7 linked regions of the Homo sapiens genome follow. The protein of the gene in region 3 interacts with the protein of the main gene of each other region in a pairwise test. Each region holds a gene or a part of one and is shown on either strand. Other genes may lie near its edges. The genes, in order: CYLC2, HEMGN, MLH3, FBP2, MSANTD3, AOPEP and CDC14B.

What was found.
Region 1: the proteins of MLH3 (region 3) and CYLC2 interact in a two-hybrid assay, tested with the Homo sapiens proteins (one large-scale study listed by BioGRID and IntAct).
Region 2: the proteins of MLH3 (region 3) and HEMGN interact in a two-hybrid assay, tested with the Homo sapiens proteins (one large-scale study listed by BioGRID and IntAct).
Region 4: the proteins of MLH3 (region 3) and FBP2 interact in a two-hybrid assay, tested with the Homo sapiens proteins (one large-scale study listed by BioGRID and IntAct).
Region 5: the proteins of MLH3 (region 3) and MSANTD3 interact in a two-hybrid assay, tested with the Homo sapiens proteins (one large-scale study listed by BioGRID and IntAct).
Region 6: the proteins of MLH3 (region 3) and AOPEP interact in a two-hybrid assay, tested with the Homo sapiens proteins (one large-scale study listed by BioGRID and IntAct).
Region 7: the proteins of MLH3 (region 3) and CDC14B interact in a two-hybrid assay, tested with the Homo sapiens proteins (one large-scale study listed by BioGRID and IntAct).

What each region holds. Positions count from the first base shown.
Region 1 is NC_000009.12:103,001,833-103,005,811, reverse strand, and holds part of CYLC2 (cylicin-2), read right to left. Parts: intron 2,671-3,979; coding exon 2,549-2,670; intron 1,118-2,548; coding exon 961-1,117; intron 844-960; coding exon 134-843; 3' UTR 1-133. UniProt on the Homo sapiens protein: Plays a role in the establishment of normal sperm morphology during spermatogenesis. It is required for acrosome attachment to the nuclear envelope, and proper manchette elongation and disassembly.
Region 2 is NC_000009.12:97,931,559-97,935,537, reverse strand, and holds part of HEMGN (hemogen), read left to right. Parts: intron 1-3,979. UniProt on the Homo sapiens protein: Regulates the proliferation and differentiation of hematopoietic cells. Overexpression block the TPA-induced megakaryocytic differentiation in the K562 cell model. May also prevent cell apoptosis through the activation of the nuclear factor-kappa B (NF-kB).
Region 3 is NC_000014.9:75,041,343-75,045,321, reverse strand, and holds part of MLH3 (DNA mismatch repair protein Mlh3), read left to right. Parts: intron 1-2,844; coding exon 2,845-2,943; intron 2,944-3,621; coding exon 3,622-3,707; intron 3,708-3,979. UniProt on the Homo sapiens protein: Probably involved in the repair of mismatches in DNA.
Region 4 is NC_000009.12:94,587,081-94,591,059, reverse strand, and holds part of FBP2 (fructose-1,6-bisphosphatase isozyme 2), read left to right. Parts: intron 1-3,590; coding exon 3,591-3,753; intron 3,754-3,979.
Region 5 is NC_000009.12:100,433,328-100,437,306, forward strand, and holds part of MSANTD3 (myb/SANT-like DNA-binding domain-containing protein 3), read left to right. Parts: intron 1-3,979.
Region 6 is NC_000009.12:94,725,074-94,729,763, forward strand, and holds the start of AOPEP (aminopeptidase O), read left to right. Parts: upstream 1-1,625; 5' UTR 1,626-1,678; intron 1,679-4,690. UniProt on the Homo sapiens protein: Aminopeptidase which catalyzes the hydrolysis of amino acid residues from the N-terminus of peptide or protein substrates.
Region 7 is NC_000009.12:96,536,146-96,540,124, reverse strand, and holds part of CDC14B (dual specificity protein phosphatase CDC14B), read left to right. Parts: intron 1-984; coding exon 985-1,047; intron 1,048-3,076; exon of another isoform or gene 3,077-3,179; intron 3,180-3,979.

The sequences.
Region 1 (3,979 bases), on a different chromosome or scaffold from region 3:
TTTACCACCTTTTAAAAATTATTTAATTCTTTGAGGCCTCTTGTTTTCTCACAAATTCAGCTGCAGACTACCACTATTGTTTCATCAAATATGCTTTTGAATTATTCTTTCGGTTCAAATTCTTATCCAAGGCCTACTTGCCCTTCTTCTTTGCATCCTTCTTTTCATCCTTCTTTGCATTCTTCTTTGCATCCTTCTTTGCATCCTTCTTAGCATTTTTCTTTGCATCCTTCTTTGAATCAGCAGATTCTTTCTCAGTATCTTTCTTGGCAACTTTCTTGGCATCTTTCGTGGCGTCCTTCTTAGACTCTTTCTTGACATCATCCTTTGAGTCACTGTCTGTACTACTGGGCTTCTTCTTATCTTTCTTACCTTTTTTAATCTCCTTTGCATCTTTCTTGGCATCCTTCGATTCATCACCTTTGTTTGCATCTTTTTTTCCATCCTCATCCTTCTTTTCATCTGCTTTTACAGCTTGTAATTCTATGGCTGAATCCTTGCCCTTCTTTGAATCCTTTTTACCTTTTTTGCTATCTTTCTCTGTACCTCCTTTTTCACCTTCAGATTCTGTTGCCGAGTCTTTGCCTTTGTTTGAATCCTTTTTATCTTTTTTGTTATCTTTCTTTGCACCTCCTTTTTCATCTTCAGATTCTGTTGCTGAGTCTTTGCCCTTCTCTGCATCCTTTTTACCTTTTTTGCTATCTTTCTTTGCATCTAGCTTTTCTTCTTTTCCTTTCTCTATATCCTTGCCTTTCTTTGAATCTTTTTTTCCTTGTTTTAATTCTGATTCCGAATCTGTTGTGTCCTTCTGTGTTGTCTTGTCTTCACCTTTCTTACCAATTTCTGGGGATAAATATTCAAATATTTCTTAAAATGGGAAAATCCAAACTTGATAAAATTCTAATAGAAATCTAATCAGAAAATTACAGAGATACTATAAAAACAGTAAGTTATCTCTACCTGCTGCTTTAGAATCCACCTCGACAGTACGAGTTGGTTTGAGAGGCTGCCTCCTGGCAGCTAAATAAACAGATGGTCTCTCAGAAATTCTCATTAAAGAACGGTACATCCATAATGGTTGTCTACGATCTCCTCTTAATTGTTCTTCATCAATTATCTGAAAGATGGTTACAATAATGATGAACAACTTGTGAGTGAATAACACAGTTTGTATTAATATATCCCAAATATATTTTAATTTCAACCATAAAAAGATTTTAGCTTTTGTTAAAAAATGGGGAAGTTTGAGATTTCATCCTTTATTTTGCTTTTTTATTGTCATCCTTTTTTTAAACTAGTGAATAATCATGCCTCATTTGGAGCTTACTTTCAGTTTATAGGATCTTCATAGCTCCCTCGGGATTTTAGGTTCAAATTGGTAGACTCATGGCATATCTTCACAATCATAGGAGGCTTTTTAAACTGTATGTTCTTGAGAATTCTTGGAATATCTTGCTCACCTTCTATTTCTAGGTAAATCAGAAACTATTCTCTAATATCTAATAGTTTCAGATTGAGGCATATCTTAGTCTATTTTCATTTTCAGAGTCTCTGGAATTTAGAATGCTACTCATGGTTAAAGATAAAAGCCTGAAACTCCTATTGCTTGGCAGATATAAATTGAGTATGATCAGATTGGTAACTGAAATAATGAAATCTACAACAGGGAATGTTAATTTGAGAGAAATTATGCATTTTGTTTTCAACTTCTAATTAAATATGTACAAAACTGAATGGCAAAAATAGCTAATCTCTGTACAAATATTAACAAAAATGGAAAAATAAATTCAGCAAGAAAAAAAGAACTTTGTTCACTACTAATGGGTTACATTTTTAAAAATAAACAAGTTAATGATACATTTATTTTGTGAAAACTTTTCTTTGAGCATATGCTTATCCCATGTTGACTCCAGAAATATTGCGAAATATTTATTTTCCAATACTCTGAGTCCTGAATTCTATATTACAGAACTGAGGAAGTATTAAAGGTATAGTGTAATCCCATGACTCAAATGAGGGATTTCTCCAGCTGTAGAACATTTCCTGAATGTTCACACTAACTCTAACATCAGGAACTCCATAATTTTGTGCTCCTTGGAAACAATTTTTACAATGTGTGGTTACTGAAAAAAATAGTTAATATGAAATAAAGGGGCAACTGTATACAGTAAAATGCAAATAAAACATATCTATTTTCTTTAAGTGGTAGACTTTGAATTATCTCTAACTGTGCTGTTCAGTAGGGCATTTCATAGCCACATGTGAATTTACTTTAATTCAATGTAATTTAAATGTAAAATTCAATTCCTTAGTTGCACTAGCCTCATTTCAAGTATTTAATAGCCTCATTGGACTACGGAGATAAATATTCCCATCATTGCAGAAACTTGTTGGTCAGCTTTGATCTATAACACATACAACTATACATGATTTCACAAGCTTACTACTTAGTGATTACTTAAGACTAATTATAATTACTTATTATGGTTATAATTATTACTAAGTTATTACTTATTACTGATAATTATAAAATCTTTCCAATGCTTACAGAAACCGTGTTGTCCCGTATTTGAGAAGGTTTTGATCTCCTTTTGGTTCCTGGCCGTTGTGGTTTGGGAAATAACAGGGCAAAGTGTTGCTGATTCCATGATTTTTTGCTTAATTCACTGACTAAAATAAGGGAGACAAAAAACACATTTTGGAGTGAATAGAATTCCATCAGAGCTGAAATGGCATTACGTGCAACGTATATCATGTAAATGAATAAACAAGTGATTCAAATTATGACTTCATTTATTTGGTAATGTTTGCAATTTTCTGTTATCAATATGAGAAAATAAAAATTGATTTTTCTATTTTGAGCAGTTTTACAGATGACTGTATAAAGTAGTCATTGCAAAACTAGCATAACTATAATATAAATGGAAAGACTCAGTTTTACTGCTTCCTTTTAAATCTATCTCTTCCAGTCTAGGTTTTTGCTTTATGCTTTTGGTTAGTATACAATTTTATTATAACAGAAAATAACTACTTCTGTAGCTCCCATAGTACTTAGCACAATGCCAGCATAAATATTCAGTAAATACATGATTTAATCTAAGTGCTAAGACTTAAGATCCCCTTAGTTAGTAACAACTTTCCAAGCTACAAGAGTAAATGCAGCCAGGCGCGGTGGCTCACGCCTGTAATCCCAGCACTTTGGGAAGCCGAGGTGGGCTGATCACGAGGTCAGGAGATCGAGACCATCCTGGCTAACACGGTGAAACCCCGTCTCTACTAAAAACCAGGTGTGGTGGCAGGCGCCTGTAGTCTCAGCTACTCAGGAGGCTGAGGCAGGAGAATGGTGTGAACCCAGGAGGCAGAGCTTGCAGTGAGCCCAGATCATGCCACTGCACTCCAGCTTGAGCGACAGAGCAAGACTCTGTCTCAAAAAAAAAAAAAAAAAAAAAAAAAAGGGGGCAAATGCTATACACCCAAGAATGGTATCGTTATAGGTGACATATTTTGTAAAGGAAAATGACAAAAAGCCTACAGAATGGTGACTGGGTAGGTGAAGTCATCTGAAAACTATAATACAAATGATTAAAGTTATTTAAGTTGCCAATGAGGCCAATGAGAGATTTCATCTTTGTATTTAGACACATGCAGCATTAATGTGTGGAAATAATAGACATTTCCTATGAGTTTTCTAAAGAAAATAGGAACAATGGGAAAAATGTACAGAAAAAAATTATATTTAGGCTCAGTATCTGAGGGGAAAATACTTGATATTTGAAGTTCTTCAAAATCAAATACCTTTGCCTTGTCTAGTAAAGAAATTTGGGGCCAATTATAAGCTGGTTATAATCTATCAGGAATGTTGTAGAAGAAATTCCTGACATAAACAAGAAGTTATTTATCCAATTTCTACATTGCTTTTCAACTGTAAGATTATCTGATTGTATGACTTCTAACATGTAACTATTTCCGGCTTTCATAT
Region 2 (3,979 bases), on a different chromosome or scaffold from region 3:
GCCAAAGTGTCTCCACCTTGGCACTGCTGACACTGGGGGCAGGAGAACTTCCTGTTGTGTGGGGGGCTGGCTTGTGCACTGCAGATGTTTTGTAGCATTTTCTGGCCTCTAGATGCCAACAGCACCTTCCACCCCAGCTGTGACAACAAAATGTCTCCAAACATTGTCAAAAGTCTTCTGGGGTGGGGTTGGGGGAAGACAGGCAAAATCATCCCCAGTTGAGAACCACTAATTTAAGCAAAGCACTCTTCCTAAGAAAGGGCATTTTCCAATCCCCAAACCCCGCTGTGGACTGAGCACTGTCTGTTCTGCTACAACAGATGTTTCTATAACACCAAGTTCACATACGATTGATAAATAGGAGAATGATGTCAGTATAATGTGGGGGTTGTGTTGGTTCATGATTTTTTCCTAGTCAGAAGAAAGCAGAATAGTGGGAAGAGAATTAAAGCTTTCAGCTGGAAAGAAAAAGCCTTCAGCTTGGCTGTTGTATAAGCAGGATTCTTTTCAGCCAGCATCCAGGGTTCCCTCCTCAGAGAGGCACAACACCAGCCTTGCGCAGCTCTCCATCAAGTGGCAGCTTGCACTTCCCTCCTGTGCCCAACTTAACGGCAACCCCGCTGGCTCAGAGCTCAGGTCTCAGCAGCTTCAAGCCTGCAATTACACTATATTTGCATTTACTATCCCCTGAGGCAGCCTCCAGCCACAGTAAACTGCTTGTCTAGACCATCCAAGTTCTCTCTCCTGGTACCAATTATTGTTTTAGTTAGTGTTAAAATGTTGCAAGGGTTTTGAATCATTTGTCCCAAGCCTATTTGCCCCACCTCCATAACCACTGTAACTTTATAGAGGATGATTTTGCAGAAAGTGAGGTTTTTTTAGGAACACGTGTATCATTTTACAGTAGAAATATTTGTATTAGGGTCCTGTGGCAGGTCTATTGAAGATTATCCAATTAGCTCCCAAATTCCATACCACTAAGCAATCTTCCAATCATTACTTGGCTTCCCAAGTACTTATCTACAGAGACGGTGCATTTGTTTGGGAGCCCAGAACCCAGGTATTCTCCTCCCCTCCCCTCCCCCCTCCCCTCCCCTCCCCCTCCTCTCCCCCATCCCCTCCTCTCTCCTCCCCTCTCCTCTCCTTTTCTTTTTTCTCTTTCTCTCATTCATTCATTCATTCACTCGTTTTGAGACAGAGTCTCACTCTGCTGCCCAGGCTGGAGTGCAGTGGCACAATCTCGGCTCACTGCAACCTCTGCCTCCCAGGTTCAAGTGACTCTCCTGCCTCAGCTCCCAAGTAGCTGGGAATACAGGCACTGGCCACCACGCCCAGCTAGTTTTTGTATTTTTTAGTAGAGACGGGGTTTCGCCATGATGGCCAGGCTGGTCTGGAACTCCTGGCTTCAAGTGATTCGCCCACCTTGGCCTCCCAAAGTGCTGGGATTACAGGCGTGAGCCACTGTGCCCAGCCAGTCCAGGTATTTTCTACTATGTGACTTTGTATGTCTGTTCATTTAAAAATTGGTCTTTAGGTTTATATGTCAGTCTCCTTAAATCTGCTTGATGAGCTCTGCCCCTGATAAATGGAGGTAGTCTCAGTGTGCTAACAGAATCAGGTTTCTGGGCTTGCTGGGCTGAGGGTATTCACTCAAATGGATAACACCTTAGTGAGCCTCTTGGCAGCTGGCTGGACTTGCTCTGGTGATACATCTCTATAATGCTAAGGCCTGTGCCCTCTTTTCTCACTACAACACACCATACAGTGAAACTTTATTAGTTTCAGAGAGAGGCAGCAGAGTGCATGGTTATGAGCCTGGCTGTTAAAGCCAGAATGACTAGATTCGTAGCCTGGCTCCCCTACTTGGTAGCCAGAGCCCTTGGAAATATTATGGAAAATAAATAATTCTCATTATAAACGAATAGATTGGCACTCTGGTTTATATACTAGTCTCTTTGCATTTAGTCTGTGTGTATTACTTCACTACCCCTGAGTAAACTCATACTCAGGGTTTCTAGACCTGCAATCCAGGCACGGCTCCTTATCTGTGCAGCCTGCAGGTGGATAATGTATATGGCTTGATTATCAAATACAAGTGTTGGGCAAGTTACTCAACATCTCTGTGTTTCAGTTTTGTCATTTGCAAAATGAAAATAATAACTACCTACTTCATAGACTGATGTGAAGATTATATGAGATAACAAAATAACTAAATTATTTAAACGGTGCCTGACATATACAAGCACTATAAGTGTTTCCTGTATTCATATGAGTCCTAATTTATATTTGAATAATTCATTCATGTAAGTTATTATATATAATTCTTATAACCACCACATGAAATTGGGCCGATATTATTTACCTCATTTCACTTACAAGGAAACCAAGGCATGTAGAGGTTAAGTGACTTGCCCACAACCATGAGAGAGTACAGACTAAAGTTTAGGCCACATAGGTATTTTTTGCATTTTTTGAAAAACTACCTGGGAAGACATGGACTATTACATTACTCAGATCTCCTCATACAGAGATTTAAATAACAACTTCTTTAGGATTTAATATCTAGGAAAAAATATGTGTTTCCTAAGGAACTTGGATTACTATTAATATCTTTTTCAAAAAATTTATCAGAATTTTATGATTTATCTTGTCACCTTGGTTACTTGTAGTAATAGTTCAAAATGCTGAGGTGCCATAACCATCATCTTTAGATTTCCTTTTTTTTTTTTTTTTTGAGACAGAGTCTCATTCTGTCACCCAGGCTGGAGTGCAGTGGCACAATCTCAGCTCACTGCAACCTCCATCTCCTGGGTTCAAGCGATTCTCTTGCCTCAGCCTCCCAAGTAGCTGGGATTACAGACGCGCACCACCATGCCTGGCTAATTTTTGTATTTTTAGTAGAGACGGGGTTTCACTATGTTGGCCAGGCTGGTCTTGAACTCCTGATCTCGTGATCCACCAGCCTCGGCCTCCCAGAGTGCTGGGATTACAGGCGTGAGCCAACGCACCCGGCCTAGATTTCCTTTTTTAAATATAATTTTCAATATTATTTTAGACTGCTCTGTTACATCTATACCTTTTTTTCTTTTTTTCTATAGCCTCATATTAGAAGTGAACATATATACTTTTTTGGTATTGACTTCAAACTGTGTTTGGTGAGGTAATCTTTTAAAAACACTTTTTTACAACGGAAATTTCAAACATACACAAAAAATGGAACAGGGTATACTTTTTTTAAATATGCAAGGAACGATGGGCACTATAAAGATGTAAAAAACACTGGTTTTTATCTCCAAAGACTGTCTAAAATGTTTACTAAAAGAAATACAGTTTCTTCAGAAATAACTACAGTATGAGGCAGCCTACATTCCTTGCCTTTAGCATGGTACACCCAATAAGTCCTATAGGAGTGCTAAGCTGGGAGAGCATTTTAGTCCTGTAGTCTCTTAGAGAAGGCTCCATGGAGCGGGTAGCATGAAACAGAATTTCAGTAGATTTAGAAAAATGATGAAATGCTTATTTATAGTACTTCCCCCAGCCCCCAGCCCCCAGCCCATCTGTATTAGCCATCTGTATTTGGTTGTATTTGCAGTGCCTAACAATTTGTCACTGGCTGCAATTACCATGCATATCCTTTCATCTTCTAGATCTTTAATTTATTAATTAGGAATAGGTATAATATGGCCACTCATGCCTATCTACCTGACTTCTTAACTTCAAGAAGTGCTTTTGCAGCTTTTGACCCCTTACAGTATACCTCATTTGATATATACTGTAGCAACTTAGAATTCTTTACACAAAATAATGTATTTGATAATCAAGCCATATACAGCATCCACCTGCAGGCTGCACAGACGAGGAGCTGTGCCAGGTCTAGAAACTCGATTTGTATGAGTTTACTCAGGGGTAGGGAAGTAACACACAAAGACTAAATGCAAAGAGACTAGTGTATAAACCAGAATGCCACTCTATTAATTTG
Region 3 (3,979 bases):
TTTCACTCTTGTTGCCCAGGCTGGAGTGTAGTGGCGTGATCTCGGCTCACTATAACCTCCGCCTCCCAGGTTCAAGGGATCCTCCTGCCTCAGCCTCCCAAGTAGCTGGGATTACAGGCACCCGCTACCACACCCGGCTAATTTTTTGTGTTTTTGTAGAGACAGGGTTTTACCGTGTTGGCCAGGCTTGTCTCGATCTCCTGACCTCAGGTGATCCACCTGCCTCGGCCTCCCAAAGTGGTGGGATTATAGGCGTGAGCCACTGCACCCAACCAATATAGCTTTTAGATCGTACCACAGGGCTACATTAGAGCCTGCACTAGGACTCTGGGTTCTCGGTCCACATTTAAAGTGATATTGCTTTGGCAGTGTGTTGAGAGCCAGATGTTGGGAGGTGATAAAGCTGATTTCCATCTGGCTATAATCTTGGCTTTGCACTAGGAGGATAAACATTACATCTGTATCCGTATTTAAAATTTTGAATGCTGCAGAAGAATGGAACATGTATAAATGTAGTTATAAGTCAATTTCTAATTTCTCCTGACGATGAATATCTCTAGCAGAAAGCTGTGGTTTCTTTAAGGTTAAATGAAACCTTTACTTTTCAGTGTTTTTCTGTTTTTCCTTGTGAAAAAAAAATCACTGTAGTAACTTCAGTAGTATTTCATAGTATTTTGTAGTATTCATTAGGAGAAAACTCATTTCTTTCACTGTTGTTCCTGAGACTATCAAGTTGCTCTTAAAGCCACTTTATGTGCTTTTCAATCTATGTGGTTTTATGTCCTGACTTACACTGAAGGCTTTTCAGAGGTAAATCTACAGCACTGACACCTCATCTTCCTGAAATGCAACTGCTTCTGATATGGTGCCAAAAAATAACTGGATTACATTATACTGTGAGATGGCTGTTGCTAAAAGAAAGGGGGAAATCTTAGCTGCCATATTCAACGTAAATATTTCTTCCTTTTGAATATAGACGTTTAAAACACTTTAACCTACTTAACATTCTGGATTAGCATACTTTTTTATGAACTTTTGAGGGTCATGTTAACTGATAGTTTCCTAATGAAAAATATTTTTGGTATAGAAAGAAGTTCCATGAACAGATGGCTCCTCAGTACCCTGCTACCTTTCTGGAAATGGCTGATATACATCATGACATCAGGACATTGTCAAACTTTACATAAAAGTGTTACATGAAATAAATTGTTAAAAGACAATTTTTTTTTTTTGAGACGGAGTTTCGCTCTTGTTGCCCAGGCTAAAGTGAAATGGTGCGATCTCGGCTCACTGCAACCTCCGCCTTCTGAGTTCAAGCGATTCTCCTGCCTCAGCCTCCTGAGTAGCTGGAATTACAGGCATGCGCCACCATGCCTGGCTAATTTTGTATTTTTAGTAGAGACGGGATTTCTCCATGTTGGTCAGGCTGGTCTCAAACTCCCAACCTCAGGTGATCTGCCCGCCTCGGCCTCCCAAAGTGCTGGGATTACAGGCGTGAGCCACCAGCCTAAAAGATACATTTTAATGTACAGAAGGAGGATCTATAAAGGTGATTTTGAGGAGTAGTGTCAAGTCCCCAAGCCTTGGTAATTTTTTCTTTAAAATATATTTTATGCAGTTCTTTCTATTGTAGTTATAAACCTTATTTCACTTCATTATCTTAATTTTATCATTCTTAACCTCTCCAGGTTTAGTCCAACAGATTTATCTCTCATGTTTTCCTCCTGTTCTAAAGCTGTCAAATTCAGCATTGTTTCTAAAACTCAAATCTGATTATCCTTCATGGAGAAGAACAGCATTTGGGCCAGATCTTACTAGACTCTGGAGTTTGAATTGAGAACCTTTCATTTGTCTACCTGTTCACTTTTTCATGCAGCATTTGTTGATCATCCACACTGTGCTAGGTGCTGTCACGTTGCAGGTTAACTGACTTTGCTTTTAGGAGTTCACAGTACTATTAGGGAAGATAGCTATCTAAATATAATTGTATTATAATGAGACAAATGTTAGGATAGAGACATACATTGGAGATAAGAGACATAAGTTGGAGATTTGTGAAGGTTGCACCAAGTTATGGCTGACAAGTACTGCTGTATGTCTAACACAGGGCTTCTCTGGGTAATTTTTTGTTGTAAGGTTTGTCCTATGCATTGTAGAATATTTAGCAGCATCCGTGGCCTTTATCTGCTAGATGCTAGTAGAACGTAGAACCCTTTACTCAAGTTGTGACAATGAAAAGTGTCTCAAGCCGGGCACAGTGGCTCACGCCTGTAATCCCAACACTTTGGGAGGCCGAGGCGGGTGGATCACAAGGTCAAGAGTTTGAGACCAGCCCGGCCAATATGGTGAAACCCCATGTCTACTAAAAATACAAAAAAATTAGCCGGGTGTGGTGACGCATGCCTGTAATCCCAGCTACTCGGGAGGCTGAGGCAGGAGAATTGCTTGAACCCGGGAGGCGGAAGTTGCAGTAAGCCGAGATCACGCCACTGTACTCCAGCCCGGGCGACAGAGCGAGACGCCGTCTCAAAAAAAAAAAAAAGGGTCTCAAGACATTGCCAATGTCCCCTCGTGCAAAATTGCCCCCCAGTGAGAATCACAGTGACCTATTCTAGGTCTTCATTCTGTCTGGTATGAATAGATAATGGAACTAAGCATTAATATAGAGTCCTATATGGACAGCATAATTTCATTAAAGGATTTCTGATTCTCAATCTAGTGTTTAGTAGTCTGCTTTATGTCTTGACTCAGTTTGTGCAGAAAGAGGTTTTATGTGATTAAATTTTTAAAGAGTTTACTTGTATTTTAAGTTCACATTTCTAGGTTTTTCTTTCTTATATTTAGGGTCTCAGTACAGGTGTCAACCTTTTAGAAGCGACCTTGTTCTTCCTTTCCTTCCGAGAGCTCGAGCAGAGAGGACTGTGATGAGACAGGATAACAGAGGTAAGGGTGGCAGAGAGTGCTGGGGCACACAGTACACATCGTACCACCTAACTCAAAAAACAAAGCAGGCTTGCATTAAGCTTGATCAGTGCCAGCTGTGCTGTACTGGAATCAGGAATTCCCCACGGCCCTGTTTAACAGCGGAACTAATTAATTCAGCGCATGCATTTAGGTCAGAAATTACTTTTCCAGACTTGAGGTCAATATTTGCTGATTATGCATAGTCTGTGGTGTCTTGTGATTAGGGGACATGTTTCTTATTTTTAAAAAGGCTGGACTTGCACTCCAAGTTGCTGTAGTTTTATGTAAGCAAAACTCTTCAAAAAAAGCTACAGACATCAATTTTGTGTGTATGTTTAAAAATAGATAAGGTATATTTTGCTTAAAGGCAGTAAGGCTATAAATTTGAGCCATAGCTTCTCTGTCAGTATTCCACAATATCTCTTTTAACAGTTTGGAGAAAAGCTGTAATGCCAGAAGATACAGTCACCAACTCTAGTTTAAAAAGTAACAGATCAAAATAATTTAGAGATACAGCAAACACTGAACATTTGTAGAACATAGAAACAATGTACGTGACCTTTGGTCTTGAGGCTATGGCTCACCAAACAGGAAATGCCATTCCCTCCTTTCCCTGTGGTTCTGGATGCCAACTTTACCTGTTCCCTTTTGCCCTAGATACTGTGGATGATACTGTTAGTAGCGAATCGCTTCAGTCTTTGTTCTCAGAATGGGACAATCCAGTATTTGCCCGTTATCCAGAGGTGGGTCTGTAGCAGTTTTTCTTTGCCTTTTTTTTTTCTTCTTCTTCTTCTTATTTTTTAAATTTTGAGATGGAGTTTTGCTCCTGTTGCCCAGACTGAAATGCAATGGCATGATCTCGGCTCACGTAACCTTCGCTTCCCAGGTTCAAGCAATTCTCCTGCCTCAGTCTCTCGAGCAGCTGGGATTACAGGCACCTGCCACCACGCCCAGCGAATTTTGTATTTTTAGTAGAGATGGGGTTTCTCCATATTGGTCAGGCTGGTCTCTAACT
Region 4 (3,979 bases), on a different chromosome or scaffold from region 3:
GTCTGGTGGGGACGTGGAGAGTCTTTATATCTAGCTCAGGGATTGTAAATACACCAATCAGCACCCTGTGTTTAGCTCAAGGTTTGTGAGTGCACCAATCGACACTCTGTATCTAGCTGCTCTGGTGGGGCCTTGGAGAACCTGTGTGTGGAAACTCTGTATCTAACTAATCTGATGGGGACGTGGAGAACCTTTGTATGTAGCTCAGGGATTGTAAACGCACCAATCAGCGCCCTGACAAAACAGGCCACTCGGCTCTACCAATCAGCAGGATGTGGGTGGGCCAGATAAGAGAATAAAAGCAGGCTGCCTAAACCAGCATCGGCAACCCGTTTGGGTCTCTTTCCACACTGTGGAGGCTTTGTTCTTTCGCTCTTGCTGCTGCTCACTCTTTGGGTCCACGCTGCTTTTATGATCTGTAACACTCACCGCGAAGATCTGCAGCTTCACTTCTGAGCCCAGTGAGACCACGAGCCCACTGGGAGGAACGAACAACTCCAGATGCGCCACCTTAAGAGCTGTAACACTCACCGCGAGGGTCCGCGGCTTCATTCTTGAAGTCAGTGAGACCAAGAACCTACCAATTCCGGACACACCACCACCCAGGCAGGGGACCGCAAGCCCCTGGCTCCTTTTGGGGAGATCTTTCTAGCAAGGGCTCCGTGAATGCAATTTAAAAGTTATGAGAGTCTCCTTTTCCCCTTCTCTTTCCTCTTCTTATGGTGGGAACAAGAGAGGCTGGAGTGCCCGCCTGGAGCCTCTCCTTGGCTTTCTCATGGCCGTGGGGGATCATTCCTTTAGAGACTGTTAGTTAGCTTTAGTGTCAGTCAGAACACTGCAAGATACTGTCCTACGGGCTAGAGAGCCCCTTTCCCCCATCATCTCAGGTGAAGCTATTGCCGGGAACTCACATCTCCTGGTGAGTTTCCATTCTTTCTAGGAGGAGGGGTGCTGCCCAGTGCCTGGAGAGAGGGTGCAGGGGGTCGGCTGAGGGGTGGGGTTAGGCGGATGAGGGGGCATTTGCAAAGCGCAGGACAGAGGCTGTTTCTCAGCTCTGCCCACCGCAGGCCTGGGCCTGCTGTTCATCCTCCAGTGGCAAGCGCATTCAGATTCCATATCGAACCAAGGCCTGTGTTTGTGGTCCCCTGAAACTCAGATGCAGTCAGCCTAGTTTTGTTGCTGCTGTTGCTTGCTTGCTTTTGTCTTGACCAGGAGGCACAGTCTTTGGGGTGAGGCTGCTAGGAGTGTTTTCCAAGACAGCTGACTGCTCACGTCATGGTTCCTCAGACACCAAATGATGTGCTGTGGGTGGGGGTTGGTGTTGGGGGGTGAGGTGGGGGTGCTGTTCAGGGAAGAGGGTGGGAAATGAGTTTGCCCCCAGCTTAAGGTAGATCAGTGGTTCTCAACCCTGGCTACCTGTTAGAACCACCTGAGATTTCCTTCAACAAATAAATAGCATTCACATCAGTAGGCAAAGGAAATTCCTTTCTTGCCATCCTTTCCTCATAACTCAGTGAGCAGACATGGAGCATGGGCTGTGTGTCTGGGCACTGCAGAAACAGACAGAAGGATGGATCCTGCCCTCTGCAAGCAGGTCATGCAGCAGGAAGCCAGTCCGTGAGTGTGGTGAACACTGAGGAGGGATGATGGGGTGTTTCTGGTGTGTGGGGCCCACTTGAGAGGACCAGGGAGGCGTCCCAGAGAGGAAAAGGAGGAATAGCAGGAAGAAAGCCGGGCAGAGAGCACTGCTGTGGTGGGAACACCATTAGTGAAGGCGAGAAGGACCAGAGCCGCTTGCTGGGTGCTGGCCCAGGGACATCTGCGGCTGTTGGAACGTGAGAGGGTGGCGGGGTGGCTGAGCCTTGCTGTAGTGGTGCAGGGTGGACACATGAAGGATACGGCTTCCCTCAGAATGGAAAAAAAAATCCTGCCATTGTGGAAGCTCACAGACAATAAACAGGACCTAGATGGTGGTCAGGGCAGAGGAGAAAATGCATCGAGTAAGATGTTGGGGACCAGGGAATGCTGCTCCAAACAGACGGCCAGAGAAGGCACTACTGAGAGATGATCCTTGAGCCAAAGCTTGACTGGGGTGGCCGTCACATGGCTCTTGAGGAAGAGTGTCCCAGGTGGGGCAGCAAGGCCACTGGGCAGTCAGTCACAAGGCAGGTGTGTGCCTTGGAGGTTTCAGAGGCTGGGGCTGACCCTGTGAGGATGAGAGAGACGGGCAGCCATGCCAACCCGGGCGCAGAGATTCCACGGTGGTGCCTGACACCCACTTGCGGGGACTTGGATTTTGCCTCTGGGTAAGACTGGGGGCACTTTAGGAGGACCCCTCCTGCTGGTGTGTTGAGAACCCCCTGAAGGGGCGAGGGTGGAAGTGGGGAGACCTTTGCATATGAATGCTCTAAAACCCAAAGCCTCTAGATAGAATTATTTTGAGGGTCTCCCTCCATCGCTCAGGCTGCAGTGCAGTGGCGTGATCACAGCTCACTGCAACCTCCACCTCCCCAGGCTTAGATGATCCTTTCATCTCAGCCTCCAAAGTAGCTGGGACTACAGGTGTGTGCCACCACATCCAGCTAATTTTTGTATTTTTTTGTAAAGACAGGGTCTCACTGTGTTGCCCAGACTGGTCTTGAACTCCTGGGCTCAAGCGACCTACACGCCTTGGCCTCCCACAGTGCTGGGATTACAGGCACGAGGCCCTGGCCCTGACTGGCATAGAATTCTCGTAGTAGCACTCTCTTATACTGCTTGGGATGGCAGTGAAGAAAAAAATGAAATAAGTCTGCCCCCACATTTCCTTCTCAGTTCAAGTAACACCAAGCTACCACAGGGCAATTTTAATTCATTCCAGCAGGGCACTGTGTGAGGACAATCCACAAAGACTTGAAATTCCAGGGCTTGGCCGGGCATGGTGGCTCATGCCTGTAATCCCAGCACTTTGGGAGGCTGAGGCGGGTGGATCACCAGGTCAGGAGATCAAGACCATCCTGGCTAACATGGTGAAACCCCGTCTCTACTAAAAATACAGAAAAAAATTAGCCGGGCGTGGTGGCGGGCGCCTGTAGTCCCAGCTACTCCGGAGGCTGAGGCAGGAGAACGGCGTGAGCCCAGGAGGCGGAGCTTGCAGTGAGCAGAGTTCGTGCCACTGCACTCCAGCCTGGGCGACAGAGCAAGACTCCGTTTCAAAAAAAAAAGGAAAAAAGAAAAAACAAATTCCAGGAGCTGGAGGCCACAGTCCTTTACTTTTGGAGTCCTCAGTTATGGCAATGGGTCTGATTTGATGAGTCCCCCCATCTGCTCCATCTCCTCGTGCTGAGACTGGGTTTGTGTTTTAGTGAGACTGAGTCCTGGGTCATCTCATTGGAAGGCTAAGAAAATATGACAACGACTCCAAGGTGTAAGGGAGGCAAGGCTGAGAGGTATCCTGCCAGGCATAATCGCCTTCTTCTGCACGTGTGACTTGGAGACTCCAGAGACACAGAACGAGAGGGGACTGCACTGCTGGCGTTTTAGGGTCCCAGGCTCTTTGCTGGAGTTAAGACCCCCTAGTGACTTCCTCATTCAGCCTTTTGTCTTCTCAGGTATGGAATCGCAGGAAGCGTTAACGTGACGGGAGATGAGGTGAAGAAACTGGATGTGCTATCCAATTCCCTGGTGATCAACATGGTCCAATCCTCCTATAGTACCTGCGTCCTGGTCTCAGAAGAGAATAAGGACGCCATCATCACCGCCAAGGAGAAGCGGGTGCGTCATGGGGCTGCGGTGCCCGCTCGCCAGTAGATGATGATACTGAGCCGGAAATAAGCTGCCTTACTTTTCTTTAATTCCCGGGATTCTCCTCTATTTCTTAACATTTGTTTTCTGGAAACAAAGGATTACATACTTCTCTACTTGGAAATCTTGTGCTGTCTAGAGAAAGAAGACTCCACAGTAGGACAGTGATTCATTCAGGAAATTGTTCAGAGTGATG
Region 5 (3,979 bases), on a different chromosome or scaffold from region 3:
GAGGCCATGGGTCCAAGCCCATGTCCTTAACCTCTATATTATACTACCTTTTTTTTCTTGGAGACAGGGTCTTGCTCTGTCACCCTGGCTGGCATGCAGTGGCATGATCATATCTCACTGCAACCTCAACCTCCTGGGCTCAAGGGATTCTCCTGTCTTAGCCACCCTAGTAGCTGGGGCTATAGGCACATGCCACCTTGCCTGGCTAGTACTTTTAATTTTAATTTTTATAGCAATGGAGTTCTCCCATTGTTGCCTAGGCTGGTCTTGAACCCCTGGGCTCAAGCAATCCTCCTGCCTTAGGCCCAAAGTTCTGTGATTACAGATGGTGATCACCACACCTGGCCAAGGTCCTTTGTAGTTTAAAACAAAGGTTATTTTTGAGATGTTGAGTCAGGAGACAGGCAAGATACTAGGGTAGGAGACAGCCTTTCTTTAGAGCAAACGGATTGCCCATTACTTTCCAGGCCTTGCTTGTAGGGAGGGCTGCCACGTGTCCTTCAGTTCACCCACCACTTCTGAATATGTTAAGTCTTTACCTCCCGAGTTGTGGCCCTGCTTTGTCCTCAAGCTAATCTAATTTCAGTCTATTCAAGTAGGAGTTAAGGTTCCTGTTCTAGATCCCCCCAGTTTTGGAGTATGTCCCTAGGCTCATCTCTGTCACTGTGCTTATCACACTGTCTCGTCACCAGCCTATCCCACAATACATGTGCATTATGTCTTCATGGGACTCTGATGTCCTCATAGGTCTGTGATCTCCTTGATCTTAAGGAATACCATTCTCTCTGATGCCTGCACAAAGTAGGTGTTTGGTTAATCCTCATATATCCTACCTGCCTCTGCTTTCTGTTGATCCCCTACCCTACTGTGGACACATATACATCCTGCTCATTTCTTCCTTTGAAACAGTCTTTGGCTGGGTGTGGTGGCTCACACCTGTAATCCTAATCCCAACACTGGGAGGCTGAGGCAGGCTGATCACCTGAGGTCAGGAGTTTGAGATCAGCCTGGCCAACATAGAGTGAAACCCCATCTTTTCTAAAAGTACAAAAATCAGCTGAGTGTGGTGATGGGTGCCTGTAATCCTAGCTACTTGGGAAGCTGAAGCAGGAGTATTGTTTGAACCCAGGAGGCGGAGGTTGCAGTGAGCCGAGATCACGCCACTCTACTCCAGCCTGGGCGACAGAGCTAGACTCTGTCTCTCAAAAAAGAAAGAAACAGTCTTTGGTGTATACTTCCTCCTTTCCAATAACATTGTCCCCACTCAGAGTCCAGGCCTTCTCTTATCAATTATTTATCTGATGATCTTCTTCAACTCTCTCCATTCATATCCTATACATTCTTAAAGATCTAGCTCAAATGTCCTCTTGTTCATGAAGAATGCAAGTGAACCTCTTCCCTCTTCTTCATGCTCAAGGTGCTTTGTCCTCTCTTCTGGTGTCTGTTTCAGCGTGCCTCTCATTTTAGTTGTCAGTTTGTGCATGTCAGCGCTCTTTCTAGGCTGGAGGGTTCAGCCTGTCCTTGTATCTCCCACATACTCTAGAACAGTGCTGAGCCTTTGGCAGGAGTTCATTACATATTTGTTGAATTGTGTGTGTATGAAATAAAGAGCCAATAACTTGTTATATATACACACACACCATACACACACACACACACACACGTGCGCACACACACAGTATTATTCTACTTTTGGAAGCAGTTTAATATGGGTGGGAAGAGTAGAAAGAACTAAAATTGATTGAAGCTGTAGTCTGTGTTTCTTTATTCACGTTGCAGGACTTTTGCGCAGAGGGAATGAGGCAGGGCCGGGATAGCGGGGGAGTAACTCCATTTCACAGATGAAGCATTAGAGGTTGATTGACTTGCCCAAAGTCACACGGTTGGGTGAGGGGTAAAGTCAGGATTTGAGCCCGGGTTTTCTGCATCCAGTGTCTTGGTTCATTTCACCTCACTTTAAGATCAGCAGTCTATTAATGTCCTGAAGTCTGATTTTCCAGTGCCATAGCTCTTCAGTCATGGTACCCATTCTGAGTATTAACTTCAAAGAACTCCCCTTTCCACAAAGAGCAAGAGATGTGAAATCTTGACAAGTTTCTCTGTCTTTGCTCAAACTTTAGGACTTAGTTTCACCCTTGGTGGACTTAAAAATCACTAGATGGTATATTAGTCTTCTCAGGCTACCATAATAAAATACCACAGATTGTGTGGTTGAAACAACAGAAATTGGATTCTTGCAGTTCTAGAGGCTGAGAAGGCCAAGATCAAGGTGTTGGCAAGTTAGATTTCATCCTGAGATCTCTTCTGTTGGCTTGTAGGTGGTGGCCATCTTGCTGTGTGCCATCTTGCTGTGTTCTTACATGACCTCCTCTTTGTAAGCCATTGAGGGTAGCAGGGCACGCCAGCTTCCTGGTGTCTCTACTTATCAAGGCACTAACCCCACTGGACCAGGGCCCCATACTTATGTCCTTATTTAACCTTAATTGCTTCCTCAGATGCCCAGTCCCCAAATACAACCACTAGGGAATTAGGGCTTCAACATATGGATCTTGGGAGGACACAGACATTTAGTCCATAAACAGATGAATTTTTGTTTTAAGTTGGATAGTAAATGTATGCATTACAGTATTCTGGTGGTTTAGTCAATGTTAGTGTTTTGGAAATTGTGCTAATTGTTTCCTTCTTGTTCTTCTATGGGTGTTGGAATTGTGCCTTTTAATTTAGGCCTATCTATGGGTCTTTGCCTAGCCCAAGGGGAACTTCTGTTGCATCTGGATTTTGCTATTTTATTTGACCATTTCTACTTTAATGCAGCTTTTTTTCATTAAGAGATGGGGTCTCACTGTGTTGTCCAGGCTGAAGTGGGGTGACTGTTCACAGGCACAATCATAGCTCACTGTAGCCTCTAACTCCTTGGCCCAAGTGATCACCCTGCCTCAGCCTCCCAAGGAGCTGGGACTACAGGCACACCACCATACCCAGCTAATGCAGCCTTTAGTGTACTGTTTTGTCATGTATGATGCTGTGTGCATGGTGGGCTGTTTTATGCCTATATCAAAATATCTGCATTTATGAAATGTTTACTGAGCGCCTACTTTGTGAGGGTCACTGGGCTGCTTGTTGCCCTACAACCATGCATAAGAATGGATCATATACTGTCTAGCAGAACAGCAGACACAAGAGATAATGGCTCCTGAGCAGAATTGGGGACAGGGAAGTCCAGTCTATCCCTAATAAAAGTTGATGCGGCAGGGAACGCTTTTTATGTTGTCATTTATAAACAATTATGGACAATTGATGAATAGTTTTAAACAAGAGTATCCTTTCTAGCCTCAAAGTTTCTATTAATAAGCATTAATAAGCTTTGCTGGAGAGACCTCTTTGGGAAGTATTTGTTTTTGTGCTCAAGCGGAATGCCAGCATTCCCCGGAGGCATGGACCATGTTAAAGCTCCAAAAGATCTCCACAGTTACCTTTCAAACATACAGTCTTTTTGAGACAGAGTCTCACTCTGTTGCCCAGGCTGGAGTGCAATGGCTCGACTTTGGCTCACTGCAACCTCCGCCTCCCAGGTTCAAATGATTCTCCTGCCTCAGCCTCCTGAGTAGCTGGGATTACAGGCACCTGCTACCACGCCTGGCTAATTTTTTTATTTTTAGTAGAGATGGGGTTTCGCCTTATTGGCCAGGCTGGTCTTGAACTCCTGACCTCAGGTGATCCACCTGCCTCGGCCTCCCAAAGTGCTGGGATTACAGGTGTGAACCACCATGCCTGGCCCAAACATACAGTCTTACTGGATCAAGGGCGGAAATTATTTCAGAGCTCTGGTTAGAGTGAGGAAGGTACACGTGGGAGGATTATGGGCCCTAAGTTTGAAATCGAGAGGAGGTGATGGAGGGAGGGAAATGAGTGGGGGAAGAGCCAACAGATGGAGACACACTCCACCTAAATTGCCCTACCCTGGGCCCTTTCCCGGCTG
Region 6 (4,690 bases), on a different chromosome or scaffold from region 3:
AAACAAACCTTGTTTTAGCTATATGATCCAGCTATTTGCTTAGGCCCCAAATTTAAGAATTATTTTTGACACTTTTCTTTTCCTTATCTCCCTTATCTAAACTCATCTCCAAGTCTGTCACATCTACCTCAGAATTATTCCTGAAATTTGTCCATTTCTATCATTTCTTACCTGCTCATTGCAAAAGCAACTCTTCTCTTTGCATCCTTTTAAATTGTTTCTCAAAAGTTTCATGTATACACAGCAGCTAGCAGGGTGATGTTATAAAACTAGATCCTGTCACTTACGTGTTGATAACTCTTCACTAGTTTCCCCTTACACTTCGAATAAACTCGTATTCCTCACAGGAACCCAGAGAGTCTGTGCATGATGGGGACTCTCCTTGCCTTCTTGATCTCATCCTCTGTTCTTCCCATGACCTACTTTCTCACTTTCTCCAAGGCACCACATTCTGCCCCTTCCCTATTGCTTGCTCACATGTAGATTCTTCTCTTGGCTGTTCTTTCCTTAGCTCTCCACAGAGTTGGCTGCTTCTCAGTTTACTGAACCTCTTCAGAGGGCACTTTCTTGACATCTCAAATCAAAAGGTCACCTGTCTTCCTTTAATTTCTCAGCAACTTATTTTCCTTCTACTTTTTTTTTTTTTTTTGAGATGGAGTCTCGCTGTCGCCCAGGTTGGAGTGCAGTGGCGCGATCTCGGCTCACTGCAGGCTCCGCCCCCCGGGGTTCCCGCCATTCTCCTGCCTCAGCCTCCCGAGTAGCTGGGACTACAGGCGCCCACCACCTCGCCCGGCTAATTTTTTGTATTTTTAGTAGAGACGGGGTTTCACCGTGTTAGCCAGGATGGTCTCGATCTCCTGACTTTGTGATCCGCCTGCCTCGGCCTCCCAAAGTGCTGGGATTACAAGCGTGAGCCACCGCGCCCGGCCTTTCCTTCTACATTTAATGTTTGCTTTCTCAACTAGAAAGTAATCCCCATGAGGGAAGGCACAGCGTCTGTCTTGTTCCTGGTTGTTTCCCCAGCTTTTGTTAAGGGTGCTTGCCTGGCACACAGGAGGACCTTAAATTGTGGTGGAATTAATATGTGAACAATAGTCACATGCAGCAGAGGTGAGACTAGGCTAAGGAATAAAATTGCACATCTGTATTTCAGTAACTTTTTTTAAATTTTATTTGAAACAGGGTCTTGCTCTGTGGCTCAGGGTGGAGTGTAGTGGCACGTTCATAGCTCATTGCAGCCTCGAACTCCTGGACCTAAGCAATCCTCCTGCCTCAGCCTCCATAGTAGCTGGACCACAGGTGCACGCCACCACACTCGGCTAATTTTTTAATTTTTTTGTAGAGACGGGGCCTCCCCAGGTTGCCCAGGCTGGTGATTTTTTTCTTAAGCTTCATAAAGATTTTGCAATTAGGAATACTAGGGTACCAGGGCAACTCTACAAGCCCTAGCCAGCCAAGCTGCTCGCGCCCTCCTATGACCGCGGCAGCTCCGCGCCTGCGCAGATCTCCCCCGGGCGGTCTCGCCCTCTCATCCTAAGGGGGCGGGCCTAGCGGAAGGCGGGTCAGGCAGAATGCGGCCCCGGGCGCGTGTGGATGACGTCACCCGGCGCGTGCCGGGGTAGCCCGTAGTAACCCCGAGTCTGCGGAAGTGGTGACCCGTGGGACGCGGCTGAGACAGGTAACCTGTTCGCTCCCTGTTGGGTCCCTGCCTTCCTCTCCTCCGGCGTCGGGATGGCGGCGGGGACAGCATCATTCCGTTCTGAAGGCGACGGGGAACCCTCCCTTACCCTCACTTTTGCTCGACCAGCGAGGACCCGCATCCCCTCCTCAGTTCTCCCAGACTCCTGGGGCTGAAACCCATCCTGGGGACTGGGCGGAGCGGTCACATCTTACCACCTCAGCTGTAGAGGTGGCCACGGGCTCTGGCTGTCTTCTCCCCGGCGGCACAGACCTTTCTCAGCCTCTGGGTGCCTCCTCCTTCGTCTCTTGCCTCCAGGCCCTCGGTCACCTGCCGGTCTCGGCTTCTAGCCCCACAGGGCTCATCTCCAGTCTTAAGTAGGCAGAACAGTTTCGATTCGATTCATTTCCACTTGCAGTGAAACCCATCCGCCTCTTCTTCCCCCGGAGGATCTTTACTGAGAGCACCACATTTTGAGTTTTGGGGTCCCTATAGAACATTCATACTGTTAGTCTGGAGTTTTGTTCATGAACGCATGCATGGGCGGGGAGGGGGTGGCACAGTAATGTGATTATGATTATCTATTGTGATAATAAAATATCCACTTAGGATCCAATCCACTGTTGAGATGCATGGAACAGTTAATAGCATTGCATAAAATGCCCCTTGTACCTGATTTCTTTTTGGTTTTCGTGCAATGATGACAATTACCCTTGCAAAGGTAGCCCTCAAAATAAGTAACATAACCCGCTAGGGATGTTTAGATCGCAAAAAAACAACAATAAGGTTCATATGGTTGATAAAGAAATAATATGGGTTATTACAAAACCAGACAGAATAGATGCTGAGTATATGGGACGAGAAGCAGAATTCTGAAATCCTTGATCTCATTGATTGTTTGGTTTTGTATTTTTAAAATACTTTTAGTCTGTTCCATTTTTGAATAGTGTATATTGTGCTTCGTATAAGTCTGGGAAGCCTTCCAATGACTTGCTAATTGGGAAGATTAGATTCTTCCAATATTTGGGGGACAAAGTAGAATAAGGTTAGGGTATAATAATAGTTGCTTACTGTTGGCCCATCTGCTTTATCCCAGGTACTGTGTTCAACACTTTGCATATGTTTTCTCCTTACTTCATACAACCACCTCGTGAGTTAGGAATTATTACCCCCAATTTATAGAGAAGGAAATTGAGTTTCGGTTATATGAAATTGACTTGCTAAAAATTCACAGTTAACTAAATGGCAAAATCAAGATTTAAATTCAGGTCTGAATATAACTTCAAAGCCTGCACTTTTCTTAAAGGACTCTACTAATGCTCAAATTTTAGGCTTTTTACAATAGTTGCACACAATTTTATGAGTTTGTTCACCTACACAAATGATTTAACACTTTTTAATATCTTTAATACTGTGTTAAGTTCCCATATTCCTGGAGTTAAAACACCTGGAAAGCTTAATTTGTGATCCTTCCTGCGTGCGCGCATGCACACACACACACACACACACACACACACACACCATCCTTATTTTTAAGAATGAGATAAATGGCAAACAAGATTGTGCAGTAAAACCCTGCTGTTTGGAGTCCTCAGGGAATGGGTAATTTTACAGTTGAGAGCTTAATACTTCTTTAGAAATGAAAATTTTATTGACTCTTTGAGATGGAAATTTTAAAAATGTACTACACAATTTCTTGCCTTCTTAAACACTCAGGATGCCGAGTAGATTTTTGACCTCACTGTGCCCGGTCGAGGACAGTTCTTCTAAGGAATTTGGCTGTGAGGAGATAAAGAAGAGTTAGAGGGAGATGTGGACTTAAGGGAGGGTTTTGTTCATTTGTGGGTTTTTCCTGTAAGAAGAGACTGGAACATTCACATTTGTGAGGTGGAAAGGGCTTGGAAACAGGAAGATGCTGAGGTCAAGGATTTAGAGGGCTGGATGATTGATGAAGCAAGGTCCCAGAGGCCACCAAAAGACGATCTCCAGAGCAGAGGCCACCTTCAGGCTATGCGGGGCACGAGGGACACTTCTTCCACTCTCCTGGGAGGGATGGGGAGAAGGGTGGGCACAGACGTGAGTGAGTGTGTGGGATGAGGAAGAAATGTGTGGAAGTTCTTGTGTGATGGAGCAAAAGTTCTTAAGTGCAGCAGGTGAATTTGCTGACATTGCGTTGATTTGTTGGGATAGGGATTGAGGAAAGTTGGTAGAAGTTTAGAATAATCACTGAGGGAAAAGGACAGGGTTTGATGGGGAGACTAGAGAGAAACATGAAGGGTTGCCTGTCCAGGAAAGTTGGTGTCCCACCAAAGTTGGAGTCTATGAATATCTAGAGTCAGATATTCTTGTGATCGTGATATTTATTCAGCTTTTGTTGAGCTTAGTAGTTTAGAAGTACAGAAGGTGGATGATTCCATTGCTTAAAGGTTTGGTTTTATAAAAGTTCTGTCAGAAGGATGAAAGAGCAAGAGACTTGAGGTTAAAATGTTCCAAGAGTGTTTGAAGAAATGAACTATGTTATTCTAAAGATGTCCATAGAGGCTGGGGGCACTGTGGCTCACTCATCCCAGCACCTTGGGAGCCCAAGGCAGGAGGATCCCTTGAGCCCAGGAGTTCAAGACCAGCCTGGGCAACATGATGAAATCCTGCCACTACGAAAAATACAAAAATTAGCCAGGCATGATGGCATATGCCTGTAGTCTCAGGTACTTGGGGGAGGCTGAGATGGAAGGATTAGCTTGAGCCCAGCAGGTCGAGGCTGCAGTGAGCTGTGGTGGCGCCACTGCACTCCAGCCTGGGAGACACAGTGATGAGACACTGTCTTTAAAAAAAAAAAAAAAAGAAAGAAAAGAAGACCATAGAGCAGGGAGTCTCTACTTCTGAAACATTTATAATTCTCTGCTGTGGGGGGCTGTCCTGTGCATTGTAGGATGTTAGCAGTATCTCTGGTCTCTGCCTATTAGATGCCTGTAGCAGACCTCTCCAGTGTGATAATCAAAAATGTCTCAAGAC
Region 7 (3,979 bases), on a different chromosome or scaffold from region 3:
TAGTCCAAAATCATGAAATATATTGCAGTCAAGGAAATAAATTTTGTGATTGACTTAGTCTTGGGATTAGTGTTTAAATAACTATATAAAATGAAGACCTTTTTAGTTGATATTCTAGCCTTCTTATTTTACATTTGTATTTCAGTAGTTTACTTTTGAAAACTGGGTGTACAAAAGCCCCCTCTTTGAACCAAGAATACCTTGTGGATCAGCAATTCTTGCTTCCCTCCTGTTTGGCTCAGGGATCAGCAGCCAGGAGGATATTTCTCAGAGGCTGCTAGGTCTGTTTGTCCTTGTCTCAGAAAATAGACACTCTGCTTATTTTGGTTATCATACTCTGCCTGCTATCACACAGAGTAAGGCTATAGGATAGGACAGAAATTTTTTTTGTTTTATTCCTATGGAAAGAATATCTTTTTTTTCCTCAAAAGTTTTGATTTTAGTGTTGATGTCAGAGCTGTTTACTTTAGGGAACATTGATTAAAGACTGTTCGGAAGAATTTGAAAATGAAGATATGGATGAAGTATGAGGGTTTTGTTTGGGATAAACTAGCACATGGATTCTCTCCTCTTTCTTATCGATGTAGAGACCATTGGGTTGTGCATTATATTTGAATCCTAAACTTCTGAATTTTCAGCCAGGGGTGGTAGTGATCTGGTAAGAGAAGAGGATTACTTTCAGGGCGTGATTATTTAACAATACATGGATAGGATGACTGGTGAATGAAAATAAAAAAGCACATCTCACAAACAAAATCCAAACAAAACACAACAAACTTATTACATATAGTTATAATTAATTTCCATATAAAAGAAGCACTTAGAAGACGCCGCCCACTTCCTTTGAAAGCTGTTCAGTGGAAAGTAATCTGATCATGACAATACTTTCTTGGGGGGCCCCTGATATTTAGTATTCTGAAATTGGATAGGAAACTGTTTTCTTATTTGCATCCTTGTTCTTAAAAGCTTTCTTTTGGATTTTAGGCAATGCAGTATGGCTTCCTTAATTTCAACTCATTTAACCTTGATGAATATGAACACTATGAAGTAAGTCTTCAAGGATCATGTTTTCAACTCTTCCTCCCCCCGCCCAGCTTTATTGAGGGGAATAATTGACAAATAAAACTTATATATACTTAAGATGTACAAAGTAATGTTTTGATATATGTATACACCATGAAATGATTACCTAATCAAGCTAATTAACATATTCATCACCTCACATAATTTAGTCTTTTGGCGTGTGTGATGAGAATACCTGAGATGTACTCTAGCAGATTTCAAGCATACAGTACACACATTAGATCTCCAGAATTTACTTATCCTCTGATGGTTTGTACTCTGACCAAAATTTCTCTGCCTGTTTTTAATTTTTCTTTTTTTAAATTGAAAAAAAAAGAGAGAGACCAAGTCTCGCTCTGTTACCTAGGCTGAAGTGCAGTGGTATACATGGCTCACTGCAGCCTTGAACTTCTGGGATTAAATGATCCTCTCTCTTCAGCCTCCCAAGTAGCTGGAATCACAGGTATGTACCACCATGCCAGGCTAATTTTTTAATTTTTATTTTTGTAGAGATGGGGTTTCACTTTGTTGCCCAGGCTAGAGTTGAACTCCTGGCCTCAAGCACTTCTCCCACCTTGGCCTCCCAAAGTGCTAGGATCACAGATGTGTGCCACTGTGCACGGCCCTGTTTTTAGCTTTCTTAATCACCCATTTCACTTACAGAAGCAATATTCTTGTTTTGTTTTAGACGTGTATAGAGTGAAAAAAAGTCAAGTCTTCATCTTCTTATCCCTATTTCTCCTGTCCCAATTCTCAGTGGGAATTTCTGCATTTGATGCACAATTCTAGAGTGAATGAGTGTGCCCCGTGTGTTCTTTATACTGTTTAGTTTAAATGTATTTTAGTATTGATGGCTGTCACACAGTGATTGAGATGCTTTTAAAACCCTTAGCATAGAATAAGATGAGATGAATAGTCATTATACACCTAATTATCTCTGGAAAATATCTTTGTTTTTGCCATAACCTTCGGTTTGTCAGGACACTTCTGGTTGCAAGTTACAGAAAGTAAACACAAATAGCTTAAATAAAAAAGGAAAAATCTGCCAGGCGCAGTGGCTCATGCCTGTAATCCTAGCACTTTGGGAGGCCTAGAGGGGCAGATTGCCTGAGCTCAGGAGTTTGAGATCAGCCTGGGCAACATGGTGAAACCTCATCTCTAAAATACAAAAAGTTAGCCAGGCGTGGTGGTGGGCGCCTGTAGTCCCAGCTACTCAGGAGGCTGAGGCAGGAGAATCACTTGAACCCGGGAGGCAGAGGTTGCCGTGAGCCAAGATCACCCCACTGCACTCCAGCCTGGGTGACAGAGCAAGATTCTGTCTCAAAAAAAAGGGAAAAATTTACTGGATTACATAAATTAAAAGTCCAGGAATAGGATTGGCTTCTAGCATGCCCCTTCAGGTGCTCAGACACTTAATCAGAAATTGGACTTGAAGTTAGTTTTATTCTCAGGCCAGCCTTCTCCAGTAGTGATAAAGATGGCCACCAGCAACTTTGACCTGCCAGTTTGGCAAAATGATCAGAAAAGTGTAATCTTAGCTCCATCAGAAGGCCCAGGAATGCCTCTCACTGGCCTGACTTACGTCATGTGCCCATCTCTGCACCAGCCTGTGTTCTTTGGCAGGGCAGGGCTAAGGAATACTCTGGCCAGCCTTAGTTCTCTGGCCATCCCAGGAGCCTGGGGCATAGGGTCAGCCCCATCAAACCAGCCGGACCAAAAAAAAATTTATTTTCTAACAGTTTTATTTTATTTTATTTTTCTTTCTTTCTTTTTTAGAGACAGGGTCTCACTCTGCTGCCCAGGCTGGAGTGCAGTGGTGCGATCTTGGCTCACTGCATTCTCTCTCCCAGGTTCAAGTGATCCTCCCACCTCAGCCTCCCAGTAACGGGGACTACAGGCACGTGCCACCATGCCCAGCTAATTTTGTAATTTTTTTGTAGAGATGGGATTTCGCCATGTTTCCCAGCCTGGTCACAAACTCCTGCACTCAAGGGATCTACCTGCCTCAGTCTCCCAAAGTGCTGGGATTACAGATGTAAGCCACGGCACCCAACCACACAAAATTTCTTAAAAACATAGGACAGGGCCAGGGAGAGATAAGCCAGGCAAAACCACAGGTGTGTTCTATGTTTTTTAACATAGTATATATATTTTAAAAAGAATAAATAATTTGATTCTACAGCTTTATCCTCCAAATAGGGAATGAGTAAGATACTGTGCTAAAGCCCTTTTCAGCCCAGAGTAGTTGTAGCCTCCTGTCTTCTTACCCTGCTGTAGTTACCTTGAGCAGACTTGCTCCCCAGCACTGGGGAGATGATTCCTCAAACAGCAGCACTTCATGTGGCAGCATCTTGAATCCTCAGAGAATTCTTTTTCACAACGTCCAAAGTAAATATTATTTCAAACTCTTACGTTTAACTGAACTGTTTTTTCAATTTCAGTTAATAATGACACTCAGTTGTTTCTGTGATGTACCAAAGATGTAAGAATACATTGTAGGATTCATTAGGGCCAACCCTGTCTTTACTTCTCTGATAGCAGTCCATTTCTAAAGTACAACGTACATTTAACTAGCACCTTAAACTTACAGAATATAGCTAAGTTATTAACACCTTTTTTGCGCTTGTCCTTAAAACATTAAACATTTGAAACAAGTTACTTTGTCTATGTAAGCAAAACTGCTAAAAACACTAGTTGGTATTTGTTCCTTTTGTAGTGATGCCTTTGTGTGCTATTAATGAATAATATAGGCACTAAGTAACTCCCCTGTTACTACTGTAGAGATTGGAGGGTCTGGGCTGGGGGGTAGCAGGGGCACACCACAAACGTCTTCACCTCCATGAAGCTGTGTGGTGACACAGGGAACTGTTTAGGTTCCCACACACCAGTTCAGTTATTATAGTGTATTTAGAAATTT